Linked DNA regions of Homo sapiens: region 2 is linked to region 1. The links come from fine-mapping of genetic effects on gene expression. Tissue or cell type: whole blood. Region 1 holds a variant in brackets; the other region holds the start of a gene. All regions are shown on one strand. Distances are between the middles of the regions. Region 1 overlaps TGFBR1 (transforming growth factor beta receptor 1). Region 2 holds the start of TGFBR1 (transforming growth factor beta receptor 1).

What was found. PIP is the estimated chance that this variant, and not a neighbour inherited with it, causes the effect.
Region 2: it holds the start of TGFBR1, and the variant in region 1 is fine-mapped to the expression of TGFBR1 in whole blood (TOPMed, PIP above 0.99). The same link has a PIP of 0.9 or more in T cells, blood mononuclear cells and monocytes.

The regions. Positions count from the first base shown.
Region 1 is chr9:99,149,480-99,160,246 of GRCh38, forward strand. TGFBR1 (transforming growth factor beta receptor 1) reads left to right here. Exons shown (of 9, transcript NM_004612.4): 9 at 1-4,713. Among named protein-coding and RNA genes, the nearest start is that of TGFBR1, 50 kb to the left of the region's middle. The variant C/T (reference allele first, on the strand shown) is at 4,126.
Region 2 is chr9:99,098,633-99,109,399 of GRCh38, forward strand. TGFBR1 (transforming growth factor beta receptor 1) reads left to right here and starts at 6,481. Exons shown (of 9, transcript NM_004612.4): 1 at 6,481-6,670. The coding sequence starts at 6,574. RefSeq lists silencers at 6,009-6,608, 6,699-7,208.

The DNA.
Region 1 (10,767 bases):
GCCATGTGGGTCCTTTCTGTGCACTATGAACGCTTCTTTCCCAGGACAGAAAATGTGTAGTCTACCTTTATTTTTTATTAACAAAACTTGTTTTTTAAAAAGATGATTGCTGGTCTTAACTTTAGGTAACTCTGCTGTGCTGGAGATCATCTTTAAGGGCAAAGGAGTTGGATTGCTGAATTACAATGAAACATGTCTTATTACTAAAGAAAGTGATTTACTCCTGGTTAGTACATTCTCAGAGGATTCTGAACCACTAGAGTTTCCTTGATTCAGACTTTGAATGTACTGTTCTATAGTTTTTCAGGATCTTAAAACTAACACTTATAAAACTCTTATCTTGAGTCTAAAAATGACCTCATATAGTAGTGAGGAACATAATTCATGCAATTGTATTTTGTATACTATTATTGTTCTTTCACTTATTCAGAACATTACATGCCTTCAAAATGGGATTGTACTATACCAGTAAGTGCCACTTCTGTGTCTTTCTAATGGAAATGAGTAGAATTGCTGAAAGTCTCTATGTTAAAACCTATAGTGTTTGAATTCAAAAAGCTTATTTATCTGGGTAACCCAAACTTTTTCTGTTTTGTTTTTGGAAGGGTTTTTGTGGTATGTCATTTGGTATTCTATTCTGAAAATGCCTTTCTCCTACCAAAATGTGCTTAAGCCACTAAAGAAATGAAGTGGCATTAATTAGTAAATTATTAGCATGGTCATGTTTGAATATTCTCACATCAAGCTTTTGCATTTTAATTGTGTTGTCTAAGTATACTTTTAAAAAATCAAGTGGCACTCTAGATGCTTATAGTACTTTAATATTTGTAGCATACAGACTAATTTTTCTAAAAGGGAAAGTCTGTCTAGCTGCTTGTGAAAAGTTATGTGGTATTCTGTAAGCCATTTTTTTCTTTATCTGTTCAAAGACTTATTTTTTAAGACATGAATTACATTTAAAATTAGAATATGGTTAATATTAAATAATAGGCCTTTTTCTAGGAAGGCGAAGGTAGTTAATAATTTGAATAGATAACAGATGTGCAAGAAAGTCACATTTGTTATGTATGTAGGAGTAAACGTTCGGTGGATCCTCTGTCTTTGTAACTGAGGTTAGAGCTAGTGTGGTTTTGAGGTCTCACTACACTTTGAGGAAGGCAGCTTTTAATTCAGTGTTTCCTTATGTGTGCGTACATTGCAACTGCTTACATGTAATTTATGTAATGCATTCAGTGCACCCTTGTTACTTGGGAGAGGTGGTAGCTAAAGAACATTCTGAGTATAGGTTTTTCTCCATTTACAGATGTCTTTGGTCAAATATTGAAAGCAAACTTGTCATGGTCTTCTTACATTAAGTTGAAACTAGCTTATAATAACTGGTTTTTACTTCCAATGCTATGAAGTCTCTGCAGGGCTTTTACAGTTTTCGAAGTCCTTTTATCACTGTGATCTTATTCTGAGGGGAGAAAAAACTATCATAGCTCTGAGGCAAGACTTCGACTTTATAGTGCTATCAGTTCCCCGATACAGGGTCAGAGTAACCCATACAGTATTTTGGTCAGGAAGAGAAAGTGGCCATTTACACTGAATGAGTTGCATTCTGATAATGTCTTATCTCTTATACGTAGAATAAATTTGAAAGACTATTTGATCTTAAAACCAAAGTAATTTTAGAATGAGTGACATATTACATAGGAATTTAGTGTCAATTTCATGTGTTTAAAAACATCATGGGAAAAATGCTTAGAGGTTACTATTTTGACTACAAAGTTGAGTTTTTTTCTGTAGTTACCATAATTTCATTGAAGCAAATGAATGAGTTTGAGAGGTTTGTTTTTATAGTTGTGTTGTATTACTTGTTTAATAATAATCTCTAATTCTGTGATCAGGTACTTTTTTTGTGGGGGTTTTTTTTTTGTTTTTTTTTTTTTGTTGTTGTTTTTGGGCCATTTCTAAGCCTACCAGATCTGCTTTATGAAATCCAGGGGACCAATGCATTTTATCACTAAAACTATTTTTATATAATTTTAAGAATATACCAAAAGTTGTCTGATTTAAAGTTGTAATACATGATTTCTCACTTTCATGTAAGGTTATCCACTTTTGCTGAAGATATTTTTTATTGAATCAAAGATTGAGTTACAATTATACTTTTCTTACCTAAGTGGATAAAATGTACTTTTGATGAATCAGGGAATTTTTTTAAAGTTGGAGTTTAGTTCTAAATTGACTTTACGTATTACTGCAGTTAATTCCTTTTTTGGCTAGGGATGGTTTGATAAACCACAATTGGCTGATATTGAAAATGAAAGAAACTTAAAAGGTGGGATGGATCATGATTACTGTCGATAACTGCAGATAAATTTGATTAGAGTAATAATTTTGTCATTTAAAAACACAGTTGTTTATACTGCCCATCCTAGGATGCTCACCTTCCAAGATTCAACGTGGCTAAAACATCTTCTGGTAAATTGTGCGTCCATATTCATTTTGTCAGTAGCCAGGAGAAATGGGGATGGGGGAAATACGACTTAGTGAGGCATAGACATCCCTGGTCCATCCTTTCTGTCTCCAGCTGTTTCTTGGAACCTGCTCTCCTGCTTGCTGGTCCCTGACGCAGAGACCGTTGCCTCCCCCACAGCCGTTTGACTGAAGGCTGCTCTGGAGACCTAGAGTAAAACGGCTGATGGAAGTTGTGGGACCCACTTCCATTTCCTTCAGTCATTAGAGGTGGAAGGGAGGGGTCTCCAAGTTTGGAGATTGAGCAGATGAGGCTTGGGATGCCCCTGCTTTGACTTCAGCCATGGATGAGGAGTGGGATGGCAGCAAGGTGGCTCCTGTGGCAGTGGAGTTGTGCCAGAAACAGTGGCCAGTTGTATCGCCTATAAGACAGGGTAAGGTCTGAAGAGCTGAGCCTGTAATTCTGCTGTAATAATGATAGTGCTCAAGAAGTGCCTTGAGTTGGTGTACAGTGCCATGGCCATCAAGAATCCCAGATTTCAGGTTTTATTACAAAATGTAAGTGGTCACTTGGCGATTTTGTAGTACATGCATGAGTTACCTTTTTTCTCTATGTCTGAGAACTGTCAGATTAAAACAAGATGGCAAAGAGATCGTTAGAGTGCACAACAAAATCACTATCCCATTAGACACATCATCAAAAGCTTATTTTTATTCTTGCACTGGAAGAATCGTAAGTCAACTGTTTCTTGACCATGGCAGTGTTCTGGCTCCAAATGGTAGTGATTCCAAATAATGGTTCTGTTAACACTTTGGCAGAAAATGCCAGCTCAGATATTTTGAGATACTAAGGATTATCTTTGGACATGTACTGCAGCTTCTTGTCTCTGTTTTGGATTACTGGAATACCCATGGGCCCTCTCAAGAGTGCTGGACTTCTAGGACATTAAGATGATTGTCAGTACATTAAACTTTTCAATCCCATTATGCAATCTTGTTTGTAAATGTAAACTTCTAAAAATATGGTTAATAACATTCAACCTGTTTATTACAACTTAAAAGGAACTTCAGTGAATTTGTTTTTATTTTTTAACAAGATTTGTGAACTGAATATCATGAACCATGTTTTGATACCCCTTTTTCACGTTGTGCCAACGGAATAGGGTGTTTGATATTTCTTCATATGTTAAGGAGATGCTTCAAAATGTCAATTGCTTTAAACTTAAATTACCTCTCAAGAGACCAAGGTACATTTACCTCATTGTGTATATAATGTTTAATATTTGTCAGAGCATTCTCCAGGTTTGCAGTTTTATTTCTATAAAGTATGGGTATTATGTTGCTCAGTTACTCAAATGGTACTGTATTGTTTATATTTGTACCCCAAATAACATCGTCTGTACTTTCTGTTTTCTGTATTGTATTTGTGCAGGATTCTTTAGGCTTTATCAGTGTAATCTCTGCCTTTTAAGATATGTACAGAAAATGTCCATATAAATTTCCATTGAAGTCGAATGATACTGAGAAGCCTGTAAAGAGGAGAAAAAAACATAAGCTGTGTTTCCCCATAAGTTTTTTTAAATTGTATATTGTATTTGTAGTAATATTCCAAAAGAATGTAAATAGGAAATAGAAGAGTGATGCTTATGTTAAGTCCTAACACTA[C/T]AGTAGAAGAATGGAAGCAGTGCAAATAAATTACATTTTTCCCAAGTGCCAGTGGCATATTTTAAAATAAAGTGTATACGTTGGAATGAGTCATGCCATATGTAGTTGCTGTAGATGGCAACTAGAACCTTTGAGTTACAAGAGTCTTTAGAAGTTTTCTAACCCTGCCTAGTGCAAGTTACAATATTATAGCGTGTTCGGGGAGTGCCCTCCTGTCTGCAGGTGTGTCTCTGTGCCTGGGGGCTTTTCTCCACATGCTTAGGGGTGTGGGTCTTCCATTGGGGCATGATGGACCTGTCTACAGGTGATCTCTGTTGCCTTTGGGTCAGCACATTTGTTAGTCTCCTGGGGGTGAAAACTTGGCTTACAAGAGAACTGGAAAAATGATGAGATGTGGTCCCCAAACCCTTGATTGACTCTGGGGAGGGGCTTTGTGAATAGGATTGCTCTCACATTAAAGATAGTTACTTCAATTTGAAGGCTGGATTTAGGGATTTTTTTTTTTCCTTATAACAAAGACATCACCAGGATATGAAGCTTTTGTTGAAAGTTGGAAAAAAAGTGAAATTAAAGACATTCCCAGACAAATACTAAGACAATTTGTTGCCTATGGACGTCTGCCTTACAAGAAATACTAAATCCTTCACACAGAAAATAAATGACACCAGATGGTAACCTGAATCCACAGGATGAAATGAAGAGCACCAGAAATGGTGGATATATGTACAACTAGCAAAGACTGTATGATTGTATAGCTGCCATAAATTACTACAAATGCCCTGGCTTAAAGCAACACCTATTTATGATCTCAGAATTCCATAATTCAGAAGTCTAGGCATAGCTCAGATGGTTCTCTGCTCCATATTTTAAAAGGTCAAAATGAAGGCATTGGCTGGGCAACATTCTTTTCTGGAGGCTCGGATGAATAGGCTTCCAAGCTCATTGAGGTTGTTGGCAGAATTCAGCTCCATATGGTTGTAAGACAGGTTGGCCAGGGGTGGTTGTCAGTTTCTAGAAGCCACTCAAATTCTTTGGCTCGTGGTTCCCTCCTCCATCATCAAAACCAGCAGCAATGGGTTGAATCATCCTTGCACTTTTCTCGGATCTCCCCTTCTGCCTCATCTCTCCACTGTCTCTTCCACTGCATCTCTCTAATGCTTCTGCTTCCCTCTTCTGCTTTTAAGGGGCCATGTGATTACTCAGGGGGCCATCTGGATAATCCAGGATAATTACCCTATTTAGTAACCTCAGTTTTACCTGCAAAGTGCATTCACTGCAGTACCAAGATTAGTATTTGATTAAATAACTAGAGAATGGGAATCTTGGGGAAATAATTTGCCTACCAAAATAAATGTAAGTTATCTTTCAGTAGCATAAGACTATATAGTAATTACATCACCATACTGTTGGGTTTACAATATAGGTGCAGTGTATATTAATAACAAAGGAGTGGGTAGGAAATGGAACTCTATTGGGACAAAGATGTATCTTATTAGAATTAATTAGTCCTAATTTGAAGATGATTGTAATAAATTGAAATGCATGCTGTAGAGCCTGGAGTAACCACTGAAGCATCAATTTAAAAATAAATTAAAAAAAACAAAATGGTACACCAAGAAATATTTAACACAAAAGGCAGAAAGAAAGAAGCAAAATGATAGACATTTGGAAAACAAATAGCAAAATGGCAGCCATAAGTAATCATGCCAATAATTTCATTAAATGTGAATGGACTAAATAGTTAAAAGGTAGAGATGGTCAGGATGGATTTAAAAAGAAAAAACTATATGGTGTTCACAGAGGCACACTGTAGATTCAAAGACCAATAGCTGTAAAGTGAAAGTATGGAAAAATATAACATGCAAACAGTAATCGTAAGAGAGCTGGAATGTCTATATCAGTACAGTGGGCTTTAAGACAAATATTACTGGAAATATAGGATATTTTAAAAAGCCAATATATCAGATATAACAGTTAACATATGTATATGCACCTAACAGGACCCCAAAATAACGAGAAAAATGATAGAATTGAGAGGAGAAATGGACAATTTAATAATATTTGGAGATTTTGACACCTACAATAATTGATAGAATGACTCAATTGAGAATCACAGGCATACAAAAGAATGCTGTCAGCCAAATTGTCCAAACATTTACCACCACCCACCACGAACAGAATGCACACTCTTTGCTAGTGCACATGGAACATTCTCCAGGGGAAACCACATGCTATTTCATAAAAGAAGTCTCAGTGAATTAAAAGGGATGAAATAGTAGGAAGTATGTTCTCCAACCATGTTGAAATTAGAAGTCAACAGAAAATTGCAAATCCCAAAATATTCGGAAATTGAATCACACATTTCTAAAAAACCCATGTATTGAAGAAGTCACAAAGGAAGTTAGAAAATTTTAAACAAATGAAAAAGTACAGCATGTCAAAATTTATAGTGTACAGCTAATGCACTGTTTAAAGGGAAATTTACACTTTTAAATACCTATACTTTAGAAGTATTAAAGCCAGTGGGGATAGCTGCAAAAATACTTAAAACACAATATTAGGAAACTGAATCCAACAACAGATAAAAGGATTTATACACCAGGACCAAATGGGCCATATCCTAGGACTGTAAGCTTCATTTAACATCAAAAAAATCAATGTATTATACCATACTAATAGAAGAAACAATAAAACCCATATTATTATAATAACTAAATAGCCAAAGGAAAGAATATTTGACAGAATTCAGCACCCATTCGTGATGAAAACTCAGCAAACTAGAAATAGAAGGCAACTTCCTCAACCTAGTGAAGGGCATCGATAAAAAACTCACAGCCAACATACTTGATGGTGAAAGAATACTTTTCTCCTTAAATCAGAAACAAGTCGAGAACATCCTTTCATCATTTCTATTCAATGTTGTCATGGAGGTTCTGTCCAGTCCCTGTTCCCTCTCCCTACAAAAAGACTAGAAAGACATTAGGTTGGGGAAAAAAGTAAAACTGTCTTTATTAAGAAATATTACCTGTCAGATTCTAAAGAATCCACCGGAAAAAATTTTTTTTTTGAAGCTACAAGACCTAATTCAGCAAGCAAGGTTGTAGGATACACAATCAATATTAAAAATTGACATTATATTAGCAATGAACGATACCTTCAAAAGTAAACTCAGAATAGCGTCAAAAAGAATATAATAATACATTTATTTAATTGAAAAAATATTGCCGAGAGAAATCAAAGGATCTAAATGAGAACTTCCATGCTCATGGATTAGAGAATTCAACAGTGTTATGATGGCAATTCTCCCCAAATTGTTCTATAGATTCAACTCAATCCCTAGCGATATTCCAGAAAGGTTTTTCTTTAAATTCACAAGCTGATCCTAAAACTTAACATGGAAATGCAAAATGTCTAAAAGATCCTAAATGATTTTGAAATGCACAAAATTGGAGGAATTGCCTTACCCAGTTTCAAAACTTACTGTAAAGCAACAATAATCAAGACTGTTTATTGACACAAGGATAGTCAGTCATATACAGCAACAGGACAGAATTAAGAGTCCAGAAATAAGCCCTCACAGACGACCAACGGACTTTCAAGATATGTGCAAAGATAATTCAACAGGAGAAAAGACAGTCATTTCAATAAATGGTGCTGAGACAATTGGATATCTGTATTTTAAAAGGAAGGAAAAAAGGAAGAAAGTTAATTAGACCCTCAGCTCATTATGCACCTAAAGGTAAGAGCTAAAGCTATACAACTTCTAGAAGAAAACAGGAGAAAATCTTTGTGATGTTAGGTTAGGCAAAGATTTTAATAGGACTTCAAAAGCAAAATTTATTAAAAACCAGTTGATAAATTGGACTTCACCACAATTAAAATATTTGGGGCTTTAAAAAACAAGAGAATGAAAAGATGAGCCAAAGACTGGCATAAAGTATTTGCAAATCATACATCTGATAAGAGATTTGTATTCAGAATATATAAAGAACTCTTACAATTCAATAAGAATACAAATGGCCCAATTAAAAATTGGTGAACAAATTCATTGCTCAGAGATTGGGTATGGTAGAGTTAATTCTAAATTCTGTATTTGGGTATTAATGTTTAAATGGTAATTCGGCAACAGTTGATAAAGTGAAGCTCTAAATACCATGAATTATGTGTAGGACTGTGACAAAAAAAGTAAAAATAAAAACTGGTCAAAAGATTTGACATTTTCCCAAGAAGATATATGAATGGCTAATAAACATAATTCTTTATAAAGACTAGATGAAATTAAAACCACAATGAGAAACCACTCCTCACACACTCAAATGATTATAGTTTTTAAAAAGACAGATAGCCAAGTGTCAATAAAGATGAGAAAAAGATGAATCTCACACATTGCTGGAATGTAAACAGTCCCTTTGGAAAACAGATTGCAGTATCTTAAGAGGTTAAATAGAAACCTATTATGTAACCCAGTAATATCATTTCTAGGTATCAGTAGAGGTGCCAGATAAAATACAGGAGGCTCAGTTAAATTTGTGTGTCAGATAAAAACAATTTTTTAGTATAAGTTTGTCCCACATATTGCATGGAACATGTTTATACTAAAAAAAAGTATTGTTTATCTGACATTTAAATTTAACTCGGCTTCCTGTATTTTAACTTGCTAAATCTGGCAACTCTAATCCAAGAAAAATTAAAACATATGTCCACACAAAGACCTGTAGGTGAATATTCACAGCAGCATAATTCCTAATAGTCAAAAATGGAAACAAGCTAAATGTCCATCATCTGGTGAATTGATATTTAAGAGGTAAGGTATTTATACCATGGTTTATAAGACTGCTTGATCCTTGTTATAATGTGGATGACCTCAAAACCCTCATGCTAAGTGAAGGAAGTGGGATGAAAAGGTTGCAGAAAGGCACAAGGGAGCTTTTTCGGATGATGGGAATTGAGGCAGGAGAATAGGGTCTGGAGGCAGGGAACCTAAGGCTCTTTCACCCTGACTTCCTAGAACTAAATTGAAAGGAAAACCCTAACTTTCCACGCCTAAGTAAAAAAAGGACCAGAGGCTGCAGATGGGAAATCTGTCTGCAACAAATCAGACTGAGTACCAGTGGAGTCTTCGTTTGCAACTTTGTGACTTAGCTCCAGCCTCTGAATGGTTGCCGTCCACAATCAACCAGACTGATTGCAGGCTTAGTCAGTCTTCATTTGCACAGAAGTATAACTTTGTAACTTCACCGTAGCCTCTGATTGGTTGCCTTTACCAATCAGATGTTTGCACAGGAGTGTGACCTTTGTAACTTCAGCCTCTGGTTGGCTGCTTTCTGCAACCAATCAGACTGATTGAGGGCTACCACTTCATTTACATGAAGTATGCATGAAGTGGCCAATGGGAAACTTCTGGGGGGTATTTGGACCAAAGAAGATTCTGTATTGGGGGCTCTTGAGTAGCTGCTCAGGCTGCTCCCACACTGTGGAGTGTACTTTTGTTTTCAATACATCCCTGCTTTCCTTCTTTTGTTGCTTCATTCTTTCTTTGCTTTGCTGGGCGTTTTGTTCAACTCTGTTCAAAACGCCAGGAATCTGGACAACTTGCAGTTACGACCTTCTACTGGTGACAGAATGTTTCAAAGCTTGATTTTGGTGATGGATTCAGAACTCCGTAAATTTACTAAACATTGTGCACATGAAATGGGGAAATTTTATGGTGTGTAAACTATATCTCAATACGTCTGTTAAAGGAAAAAAAAGTAAAACTCGCCTTTGCCAGTTTTTGTTGTTGTTGTTTGTTTTTTGTTTTTTCTTTAAACAGGGACTCTCTGTCACCCAGGCTGGAGAGCAGTGGTGCGATCACAGCTCCGGGCAACCTCGACTTTCCCGGGTTCAAGTGATTCTCGCCCATCAGCATCTCGAGTAGCTGGGACTACAGGCACCAGCCAGCACCCCAGGCTAATTTTTGTATTTTTTAGTAGATACGGGGTTTCAGCGTGTAGCCCAGGCTAGTCTCGAACTCCTGAGCTCAGGTGATCCGTCCGCGTCAGCCTCCCAAAGTGCTGGGATTACAGGCGTGAGCCACTGCACCGGGTCTCACCTTACCATTCTTGCCACCCACCATACTTCCTTCATCTGTCCGCCATGCTGCATGTCCCGACGCACCCTGCTTCCTGCCTTTCTGCTAGGCTCCGCCCTTCGCTGGAACTGCATTTTTCCCTCTCCTCTGCCTTGCTAACTTGAATCAACCCCAAGGCTCAGGTCGGAAGGCATTTCCTCCACTATTGTTGCGCATCCTGCCTGCTGGCAAATCATTGATCCCCTGCTGCATTTCCAAATCACTTACCTCATTTCATTGCACATCGTTCCTGTTTTAATCCCCTTAGGGAGTTAGGACTCTTGCTCTCCCTCTCTTCCCTTGAGAGAAGCAGACGGTTTCTGTGTATTTTCCTGTCCAAGCACCTAACGTGAAAATTAACAAAATAGTTTGAGTGCTTATTTTTGGTGCTAACTCTGCTGGGTCCTTGGATGCTCCGGGAGTCTGGCATGTTTGGGGTGCTTTGTCAAAATTTTTAGGGGTCTTCCCTAAATGGCTCCCACCACACTCTGTTTCCAATGCCGCATCATTTCGTACACATGCCTCCCTCTAAG
Region 2 (10,767 bases), 51 kb before region 1:
ACAACTCAAGTCAATAATTTAGAGTAATAAAAGACTGGTAGTGGTCCAGGTGGCAAAAATAAATGCAAATCCTTGATAAAACTTACTTAGAAATAAATTTAACAAATGTTATGAAAGACCCCTGCCAATAAAAACTACAAAACATTGTTGAGAAAAATTAAAGATTGAAATAGATGAAGAAATATACCATGCTCATGGATGGGAAGACTCATATTGTAAAGATGTCAATTCTCCACAAATTGATTTATAGTTCAGTGCAATTCCAATAAAAAGCATAGCAGGGTTTTTGTAGATATTGACAAACTAGAACTAAAATTTACTTGGAACTATAAATATCTTAGCATAGGCAAAACAGTATTGAAGAAGAACGAAGCTGGAGAACTTGTTCTACCTGATTTTGAGACTTACCATAAAGTATAGTAATCAAGTCAGTGATGTTGGCATTAAAATAAACCGAAGACCAATGGGGAAAAAAGAGAGTCCATAAATAGATCCACAAATATACAAATGGTTTTTGACAGTCACCAATGCAGTTCATTGGGGAAATTTTCTTAACAAATCTTAATGAATTATCCTGGATCAACTGGATGTCAGTATAGAACAAACTGAACTTTGATTCACACCTCACGTCATACGTAAGATTTAATTCAAGATAGCTTAAAGACTTAGATGAAGAAGGTAAAACTATAAAATAACTAGAAGAAGGACATATAGGAGGAAATCTTTGTGATTGAGGGTGGGGCAGTGAAAATATTCTGCATGATACTCTCACTGTATATTCATCAAAACACATAGACAATAACAGTGAATACAAAGGTGAACTACTGACTTTGGGTGGTAATGATGTGACAGCGTAGGTTCATTGACTGTAACAAACGTACCTCTCTGGTAGGAGGCATTGACAGTGGGAGAGGCTGTGAGTGTGGGTGAAGTCAGGGAATACATGAGAACTATGTAATTTCACATCAATTTTGCTGTGAACCTAAAACTGCTCTAAAAAATGAAGTTTATAAAAAAAAGACAAAAAAGACAGATTACTTACAAAGGAGAAACCATTAGACTACCATCTAATTTCACATAAACAACAATGGAAGGCAGAGACAGTGAAATGATACGTTCAATTGTGGAGAGAAAACAATTATCAACCTAGAATGCTATGTTCAGTGAAAACATTGTTGAAAAATGAGGGTTAAATAAAAACATTTTCAGTCGAACAACAACTAAGATTATTTGCCACTGGTAGACTCTCACTAAAAGAAATTTTAAAATATAAACTTCAGGAATAATAACAGTGATTTGAAGTAGAAAGTCTGAGAGGTAAAAAGAAAAACGAAGATCAGAGAAAGTGGTTAAAAAGTGTTTGTACGTGTGAAAAAAAGCTTATCATCACTGGTGAGATACCACAATGAGATACCATCTCATGCCAGTTAGAATGGCGATCATTAAAAAGTCAGGAAACAACAGATGCTGGAGAGGATGTGGAGAAAAAGGAATGCTTTTACACTGTTGGTGGGAGTGTAAATTAGTTCAACCATTGTGGAAGACACAATGTGTGTGTGGCGATTCCTCAAGGATCTAGAATTAGAAATACCATTTGACCCAGCAATCCCATTATAGGGTATATACCCAAAGGATTATAAATCATTCTACTATAAAGACACATGCACCTGTATGTTTATTGTGGCACTGCTCACAATAGCAAAGACTTGGAACCAACCCAAATGCCCACCAATGATAGATTGGATAAAGAAAATGTGGCACATATACACCATGGAATACTATGCAGCCATAAAAAAGGATGAGTTCATGTCCTTTGCAGGGACATGGATGACACTGAAAACCATCATTCTCAGCAACTAACACAAGAACAGAAAACCAAACATCATATGTTCTCACTCATAAATGGGACCTGAACAATGAGAACACAGGGACACAGGGAGGGGAACATCACACACAGGGGCCTGTCGGGGGTGGGGAGCTAGGGGAGGGATAGCATTAGGAGAAATACCTAATGTAGATGATGGGTTGATGGATGCAGCAAACCACCATAGCACGTGTATACCTATGTAACAAACCTGCATGTTCTGCCCATGTACTCCAGAACTTAAAGTATAATTTAAAAAGAAAGAAAGAAAGAAAGAAATGTGACCTCCAATGTTGGAGGTGGGCCTAGCAGAAGGTGTATGAGTCATGGGGGTGGAAAAAAAAGTGTTCGTAAACATGTACACACTTATTTTCTCTTGATATCCTTGCCTCTTTGCAATGTGATTTTGCAGTTCCTTTTTATCAAAAAAAATGGAGTCTTTTTCCCCACCCTTTGAATTTGGGCTCAGCCCCAGTTCATGCCCAAACCAATGGGATATGGTAGAAGTGATGTTGTGCCAGTGGATGTTTTTTTGTTTTGTTTTGTTTTTGAGACAGGGTTTCACTCTTGTCACCCAGGCTGGAGTGCAGTGGTGTAATCATGGCTCACTGCAGCGTTGACTTTCTGGGCTCAAGCGATCCTCCAACCTCTCAGCTTCCTGAGTAGCTGAGACTACAGGTGTGAACCACTATGCCTGGCTAATTTTTGTATTTTTTGTAGATAAGTGGTTTTGCCATGTTAACCAGGCTGGCCTCAAACTCCTGGGCTCAAGCCATCGCCCCATCTTGGCCTCCCAAAGCGCTGGGATTACAGGCATGGGCCACCATGCCTGGCCGGTGCCAGTTCTAAACCTAGACTCAAGGCTCTTGCACGCTTTCATTCATTATCTTGGATAATGAATGTCATGTTATCAAGCCTAGGCTAGCCTGCTGGAGGATGAAAATCCACATGGAGGAGCTGATCTAGCTCATTACCCTCTTCCACCCCCTTCCACCTGACAACCGACTCATAAGTGAGCTCAGTGGAAATCAGCATAAATTGGCCTAAACCTGAAAAACTGTCCTACAGTCTCATGAAAGATGATATATGGTTATTATTCTAAGCCACTAAATTTTGAGGTGGTTTGTTTTTCAGTTAGGAGCACCAAGAATTAGCAATAGCTAATAATGGCAGAAGTCAATAATGTCTTGTAGGTTAGAAAATAAGATAGAAATAAAATATGCAACAATAAATAGGATGGACAAATGAGCAGAATAGAAGCATTCTAAGGTGAATAAAAATAGATTAATTTTTCTCATATAATAAGAAATAAGCATTATGGAGCTGGTGCAGTTATTCAAAGTGAATAAAAAATAGATTAATTTTTCTCATATAATAAGAAATAGGCATTATAGAGCTGGTGCAACTGTTCAGGAAATTTATCAAAAACCTAGACTCTCTCCATTTTTTCTCTCTACAGTCCTCAGTTTTGGCTATCGCCTTTATGTTTACAAAATGGCTGCTGTACCTCCAGGCATTGCAACTGTGTTCCAGGGAGAAAGAGAGAATATGATGAGTCTCTTCTTTTTTTAACTAGGAAGTATCTTTTGTACAGGCTCCGCCTTGTGGAAAGTAGATTTCTGTTTACATGTCACTGGCCAGAACTCTTGTCACATGGCCATACCTAGGTACAAGGAGCCTGGGAAATTGACATATATATTTTTTCTAGGTGATCTGCTTTCCCAAAGAAAAACAGGACTCCATTATAAAGCAAATGTAAGAATGGGTGTAGTTTAGATGACAAGCAGTCTCTGCTCTCTATTTTGGAGAAATCCTCTTACTTAAGGAACTAATCCAAAAGGAAAAGCAAACAATGTCCTTGGCATAAAGATTAAGAGACAACATTACACAGGGTACAAGGCACTGGAGTGAGACTCCTAGTCCTAGCTCTGCAGCTGACTTGCTGGGGAACTGATCCTCAGTTTCCTTCCCTTTAAATTAAGACATTGGAGTAAATAACATGTAAGCATTTTAAACAACAAGTAAGTCTGTAAAGACTGAAGGGAATTAACATTTATGACAGATTCCTTAATGTGCAATAGCTCATTTAGACCTCACAACAGTATCTCCCTTTACCCTGGGGGATGCTAAATCTCAAAGCAGTCAAATAGTGTTCCCAGACCCACATCTAGTGAGTGGCAGCCAGAATTTCAAGTCGGGTCTGTAGGCCTCCAAAGCCAGAGGCTTCTTTCTACTGCCCATCCAACCTTTCTCAAAAGGCAAATAAGGTCATGCATTTTTATTTACTGAATTTTAAGTAAAGCAGTGTCTTTTGAAGCGGGCCCAGTGCCACTTGCAGCAGAATCACCTGGGATGTCTATTACAAATGCAGATTCCTGAACCTTCTCCACATGAACTGAAGCAGACTTGCTAGGGCCGAGGGAGACCCAGGAATCTGTATTATTACAAGCTCTCCAGGTAATTGGAGAGACTTTACAATTTGGGAACCATGATTTTAAACTAATAATTTAGTGTTCCATTCTAGTGTAGTTTATTTATGGATCTGTGGCTCATGGAAATTTCCTCCTAGTATCAGGAAGATACAACTTAAAAATAGTCTGTTTTTCCTTCCTATTGTATCCACTGAATTCCACGGAAAATGTTAAGGAACTGGAGGTGTGATTAACACTGATTAATCTAGGCTCCGTACGTCAAAGGCACAGACTGACATGAACATACATGCTGATTAGAATCATACAGAGCTGGAAGGGGATGGGCAAAGAAATGGCATTAGCTAAATATTTACTATGTTCCAGACACTGTACCAGACACATTACGTCATTTAAGGGGCCCAAGACAAGTGATTCAATCCCTTTTATTTATAAACGGGGTAGGTACTATTATTATTTACATTTTAGAGATGAAGAAGCTAATGGCCAGAGAAAAACAGTCACTTTCTGAGATCATTCATTCATTCATACAATAAAAATCTCATTAGCTCTTATCTTATGAAAGACATTGCAAATAGAGCAGCAAAAAGGCAGTCTAGGGACCTCAGGTGGCACAAAGTCCACCAAATCTCCATTGAAGAAACTGGAACTGAGAGGGCAAATTGGGACTGGAGCCTGCCAGAAGCCATCTCTCTGGAATCCCTCAGCCTGAGCAAGAGGGGAGTTTGCTGCTGAGGCTGCTGGAGCTGCGGTGTAGAGCAAGTTGCAGGCCTCTGAGCCTGTTGGAGGTTCAGAAAGGTTAGCTGACTTGCTTAAGTAAGTGTCCTAGACAGGAGGGAGAAAGCGCGCGGGTCTCAGATCCCAGCTCCAATATCCACGCCTTTTCCCTTTTCATCTCCCGGAAGGAAGCCTTCACAGGTGGGGAAAATGCTCACCCAGTGACTCTAAAGTAGTGCACAAATTGGCATTAATCAGAACCATTCTGATTCCTGCTATCAAGGTTTATTTAATTCTAAGCTCAAATGACACAGAAAATAAAATTTCCTCCTTAAAAGGTTCTGCGGAAAAATATTCTCTGTTCTACGTAACAGCCTCCTTGGCTGTGTTTGTGTCTGAAGAAAGGACTAGTCTGACAGGAAGAATTACAAATCTGGAGCTCATTTTGGCGTCGCAGAGGGAAGGTGGGTGGAGCGTCTCGCAGTAAATTAGGAATTCAGAATGAAAACGTAGAGTTTATTTGGGTTTTTAGTGACACCTCAGGATTATTATACAGCAGTGTCAGACACAGCTCAAAGTAATGATGACTGCTCCCCCTCCGCCCCGCGGGAGCTGGGTGCTAAGAAGGGGGAACCCCTCCTTTGAGGGGTTGGGGTGGGGATCCTCCCTTTCCAACCTGGATCGGGAAGGGGTTTGAGAGGAGTGCGGCTTGGATCCCCATCCTGGATCTGTGCTGGAGGGAGGCGGGAGGCTATTTGGGGGTGTGTTTGGGCTCAGGATCTGGGTCTGACGCTGGGATCTGAGGACTTTCTGGGTTTGGAACTGGGTGGGGGAGCTGGGTTTGGGGTGACCGCTGGGAGCAGGAGGAAATAGGAGAGTGAGTCGCATGTGAAGGGCACTGAGGAGGGATCTTCGGGGGAATGCTGAAGTTGATGCGTGGACTTGGAGAGGGGAAGTTGAAGTGGATGCAGGGGCCTGGCGCTGCAGCGGATCTGGGTGGCATGTGCTGGGATTGCCAATGCGGAGCTGTGAATGGGGTCAGGGTGGGGCTGAGGCAGTACCAGATCTTCCGCGCCTAGAGGAGGTTAGAAGAAAAGAGCGTCGAACGGCCACAGCCTTTTTCCGAAAGAGACTCACACAGACACACCCATCGCTCTACCCGGCCCTCCGGGGCTAGCGGCTGAGCGGTGCTGGGGCTGGCAGACCCCGCCCCCACGCGGCCTCTCGGAGCCGGGAGCCGATCGGGCCGGGGCTGGGGTCTGGCGGCCCAGCCCCCGGGGAGCGTGGGGCGTGGCCAGAAACCGGCGCTCGCGGCTGCGGATTGGCTGCCTGGCGGGCCCGCAGGCGGGGCTCCCGGCTGGGTCCCGCTTGGCAGCTCGCGGCGGCGGGGAGGCGGGGCCGGCGGGAGCCCGGCAGCCAATGGACGCGCGTCCTCCGAGCAGTTACAAAGGGCCGGAGCGAGGCCGCCGCGGCGGCTAGGGAGGTGGGGCGAGGCGAGGTTTGCTGGGGTGAGGCAGCGGCGCGGCCGGGCCGGGCCGGGCCACAGGCGGTGGCGGCGGGACCATGGAGGCGGCGGTCGCTGCTCCGCGTCCCCGGCTGCTCCTCCTCGTGCTGGCGGCGGCGGCGGCGGCGGCGGCGGCGCTGCTCCCGGGGGCGACGGGTGAGCGGCGGCGCGGCGGGCGGGCGACTGCGGGGCGCGCGGGCCGGACCCGGCCTCTGGCTCGCTCCTGCTCTTTCTCAAACATGGCGCGGGGCCGGGGGCGCAGGTGGCGGCGCCGGGGCCCGGGCCGGGCTCTCGTGGCGCCGCGCGGCTCGGCGGCTGCCGGGCGAACCGCAAGCGGGGAGCGGAGGCGGGGCAGGGGCGTGTGTCCGGGCGCGGGCGGACGTGTCCGGCTGCCCGAGGCCGCCCCGCTCGGGACTCCCCGGGGAGGTGGAGTCGGGCGGAGTCGTCCGAGGTCCGGGGCTGCCCTCTGGGGTGTGAGTGGGCGAGGGCCAGGGGCGGAGAGTGCGAGGCCGGCGGGGACTGGCAGAGCCGTGGCTGCCCGCCGCCGCCCCCTGGGCACGGCGTGACCTTGTTCTGGGGACCCCCGCCCCAAGAGGGTCCGTGCCAGAGGCTGCCGAACCCGGGGCGGGGTTTGAGGTTGGGGTGGAAGGCGGCTCCCGGGCGGGGTGTGAGCTCCGAGCCTCTAGGGCTTCGTCCAGTGGGAGTCGGGGGCGACGTGTGGTGAGACCCCTGGGTCCGCAGGCCGCCCTGACTCCCGCCCGGCTCGACCCGAGCCGACCCTGCTGGAAGGGGCTGCTCCTCCAGCCAGGGGGGCTTTGTGTGAGAAGAAGGAAGCGCGGAGATGCGCGGAATGTTTCTTCTTTCGTGCGTCTGGGGAGTGTTGAAGTGAGTCCAGTAACCAGACGGCTACGGATTGTTTTCATAGTGGAAACTTGAACGTTTGCTCATTCTGCGGGTTTTGGAAATTTTGGGAACGACTGTGAATTGATTAAACGCTTTTTATTTCCTCGAAGGAACATCACTCACGTTGTTCCTTTTCTTGAGTGACAGTTAATAGTTTGATTCAGACATCTGTATAGCTGGTTTTCAAGGAAGACTGTTGGCTGGATTTTTCAAAATAGTAAATCAGGTTGGGGTAGGTGGTTGGTATCCACAAAGGGATGAGTGAAAAACTTCGTTAGCAGCTGAACTGAGACACTAGAAGCTAAAATACACAGCCTCAGTGTTAGCAACTAAAATGCAGTGAAAGTACATTTCTGTTTCTGAAACTGGACAAAAGATGTTGAAATTTTTTTAAAAAATCAAGACTGACGGTGACGATTATAATCAGTCCTAATAGCTACCGTCTATGTATTGTGCATTACTACGATGTAAATGCATACACTATTGTATAATTACATTATTTAATCACCACAAGTAAACTCCCAGGAGTAGTGGCATTTGCCCCACTTTACAGATGTGCAAAGTGGGGTACAGACACGTTAAGTACCCAATAACTTAAGTGCTAAAGCTAGGATTTTCACTCAGATCTCAGTTTCCCAAACCTGTATGTCATATATATATATAAATATGTATACATCATACTATCTGGCGTAGCCCATTTTTCTTCTTCAGTCGTCTGATGAGCAATTGGTCTTTATTATCCACTTTGGATTCTGTCCTCATGATTTGAGTATCAGATAGGCTTCATTCCGACTCTTAGCACATTGTTGAGTCCCTTCACGTGGGCCTGCATTAGAGGAAACAATGGATTTTTGACATTGGCCTAGGGAGGAAGGCAGGATAACTGTGTGGACATTTGGGAGAATCAGTATAGTTAGGCATGAAACACAGGTAACATTTCCACACCGCTATTAACTTGAATAACACAGTGCACTCTTTTCCACCAGAAGTAGCACAAGAAGCGTTCATGTATTCAAGTAACAGTAGTGGACTTAGTTGAAGACACAGAACATTGCTCAGTCCATGTCCTGGAGGAGTTTACAGTCTCCATGGTATGCACAAAATACAAAGCTGTCCAGGTGCTTATTACTCTAAGCCCAGACTGCCTCAGCTTGTCTGCCTCCCCTGTTGGTTATGATGATGCCTCAGTCCACCCTTAAAAAACATTCTGAAAAAGGTCAAATGCTTTTTATTTCCTCTGTAACTTGGCTTCCCTTTTAAAGACTTGCACCTTTTTATGTTCTGAGTATGTTTTAATGTTCTCTGCCCAACTTCTGTCTCCAACATAGGTTTCTCTAGGGAAATTGATTCCTTATCCCTAGTGCACAGTTTAGTACCACTATGTCTATATGTATATCCCATCTGAGAATGCTATTTGCTTCCTTTCTGCCATTTCATAACTTTTTTTCTTTGAAAACGTGCCCCCAATCCAACTCTTCTATGAATGCCTCTTGAATGTCTCCTCCTTTCTTGGTATGCAGCCTTCAGCTTAATCCTGCCTGTTATCCTCCAAATCTAGTTGCTTTCCCATGTTTTTCTCATCTAGGCTTTTCTATGGCTACTGCCAAACTAATCTTCCTCAGCCTTCCCCGTGAAGGTTTATAAGATTTCCCATTTGTATTCAGCACTTAGAACAACACTTAGCAGCTTATGATTGGGGCCATCTCTGAGTATCCTACCAGGGATCTCATTTCTCATTACTGCAGACCTTCGAGCAATTTCTCTTTCTCACTGACTCCTGACTGTTCAGCCTTTTCACTACACATTTAGTTTTGCCCCTTTTTTTGGGAGTGCGAGAAGTTCTCAGCCCTGACTTCCTGTGCTGGTTTAGTTCTTGAATTCTTTGTCTTCCAGAACTCTGCAACACTTAACAGTTTGTGTTGTCCATTTCTACTGCCTGTGCTGCTACTTAACTCTACTTGAATGCGTTATAGGTACCCAGAGGACAAGATTCATGCCATTTCTTTCTTTTGTGGCCTCAGAACTTAGCACTGTGTTTTATATTCTATTCCACATAAATGCTTGTTGATTTCTATTTGAGCATTCCTTTAATATTTATACTGTTTTATGTAAGTCCAGTTTATGCAATATTAACTTGTAATTCCGTATAAATAATCAGGAAAAGTTGTATGGCGTGTTGAAAGCAATTGGTTATTTGTCCTACCTTCACCAGCAGTTATGCAGAAAATGGGGCAATACCTACTTTTGCCTAATTCATGAGATTGTGAAGATCACATGAGAAAGTGGTATTTGAGTTTGAGGTTGCTATTCTGTGTTGTTGCTAAAGAGCAGGACTGATGTTCAATAAGCAGTTCCCACTGGGCCATGTGTGTTTTGGTTAAACATCCTTTCTGATTGGTTGGTACCCTTGTAGTGCCAGTTGTTAAATATTTTTAATATCATTTCTATAGGGAGGCATTAGTATTCAAAAAGGGAAATGATTAGTGTAAGCTGGAATGATTGGGGGAGGCTTCTTGGACACTTTAGGACTTACACTGACTTTGAAGGGTGGGTAGAATTCAGAGGGGGATTTGATGAGTGTGAAAGTTCTTTTGAAGTTGTGTCCCCAACTGTCCTGGGGCCTACTCCAAGGGAGGAAACAAGGCTTTTACTGACTGACTGGCAAGTTACTCTTCAGAGTTAGGTTCCTTATTCTGTACTGTGGAATTTGGATGTATTAACCTCTATCATTTTTTCCCCAATCCTAAAAGCTATAGTACATAGCTGGAAACAAAACATAAAAGTAATCAAAGTGGAATGAGTGAGGGAGAATAACATTATGGGATGCCCAGTAGGACTAGGCATTCAAATGGTGGAAGTCCTAAGTATATTATCACTTCAATTTACAGATGAAAAAACGACTCAGGTGAATTTCTTAGGGTGGCACAGGGGCAGAACAGAGACAGGAACTTTGATTTTCTGATTCCATATCTTGTGCCCTATATGGTGCTTTAAAATGTGAAGGACTTGGAGGTGGGAGTGGGACAGGGTTGGGATAGGTGGTTGGCATCCACGAAGGGATGAGTGACTTCCTTAAGTGAAGTAGGCCTTGAACTTCACAGAATTTATGAAAAGTGAATTCTAAAGGTGGAAGGGAGGGGGAATGATTAAAGCCTTAAAGTTCTCAAGGAAAAGGTCAATTTTTTTTTAATTGCTGATAAAAGGACCTGGTATATACTTATTGATTGAGAAAAGTAGGCCTATAGTAGTTTGGAAGATGGTCTTGAGTAAGTACAGTTAATTGAATTGGGGTGTAGTTAGAAGGCTTTGGTTTAGAATATTAGATGATCCGCTTTGTTGTTGAAATTAAG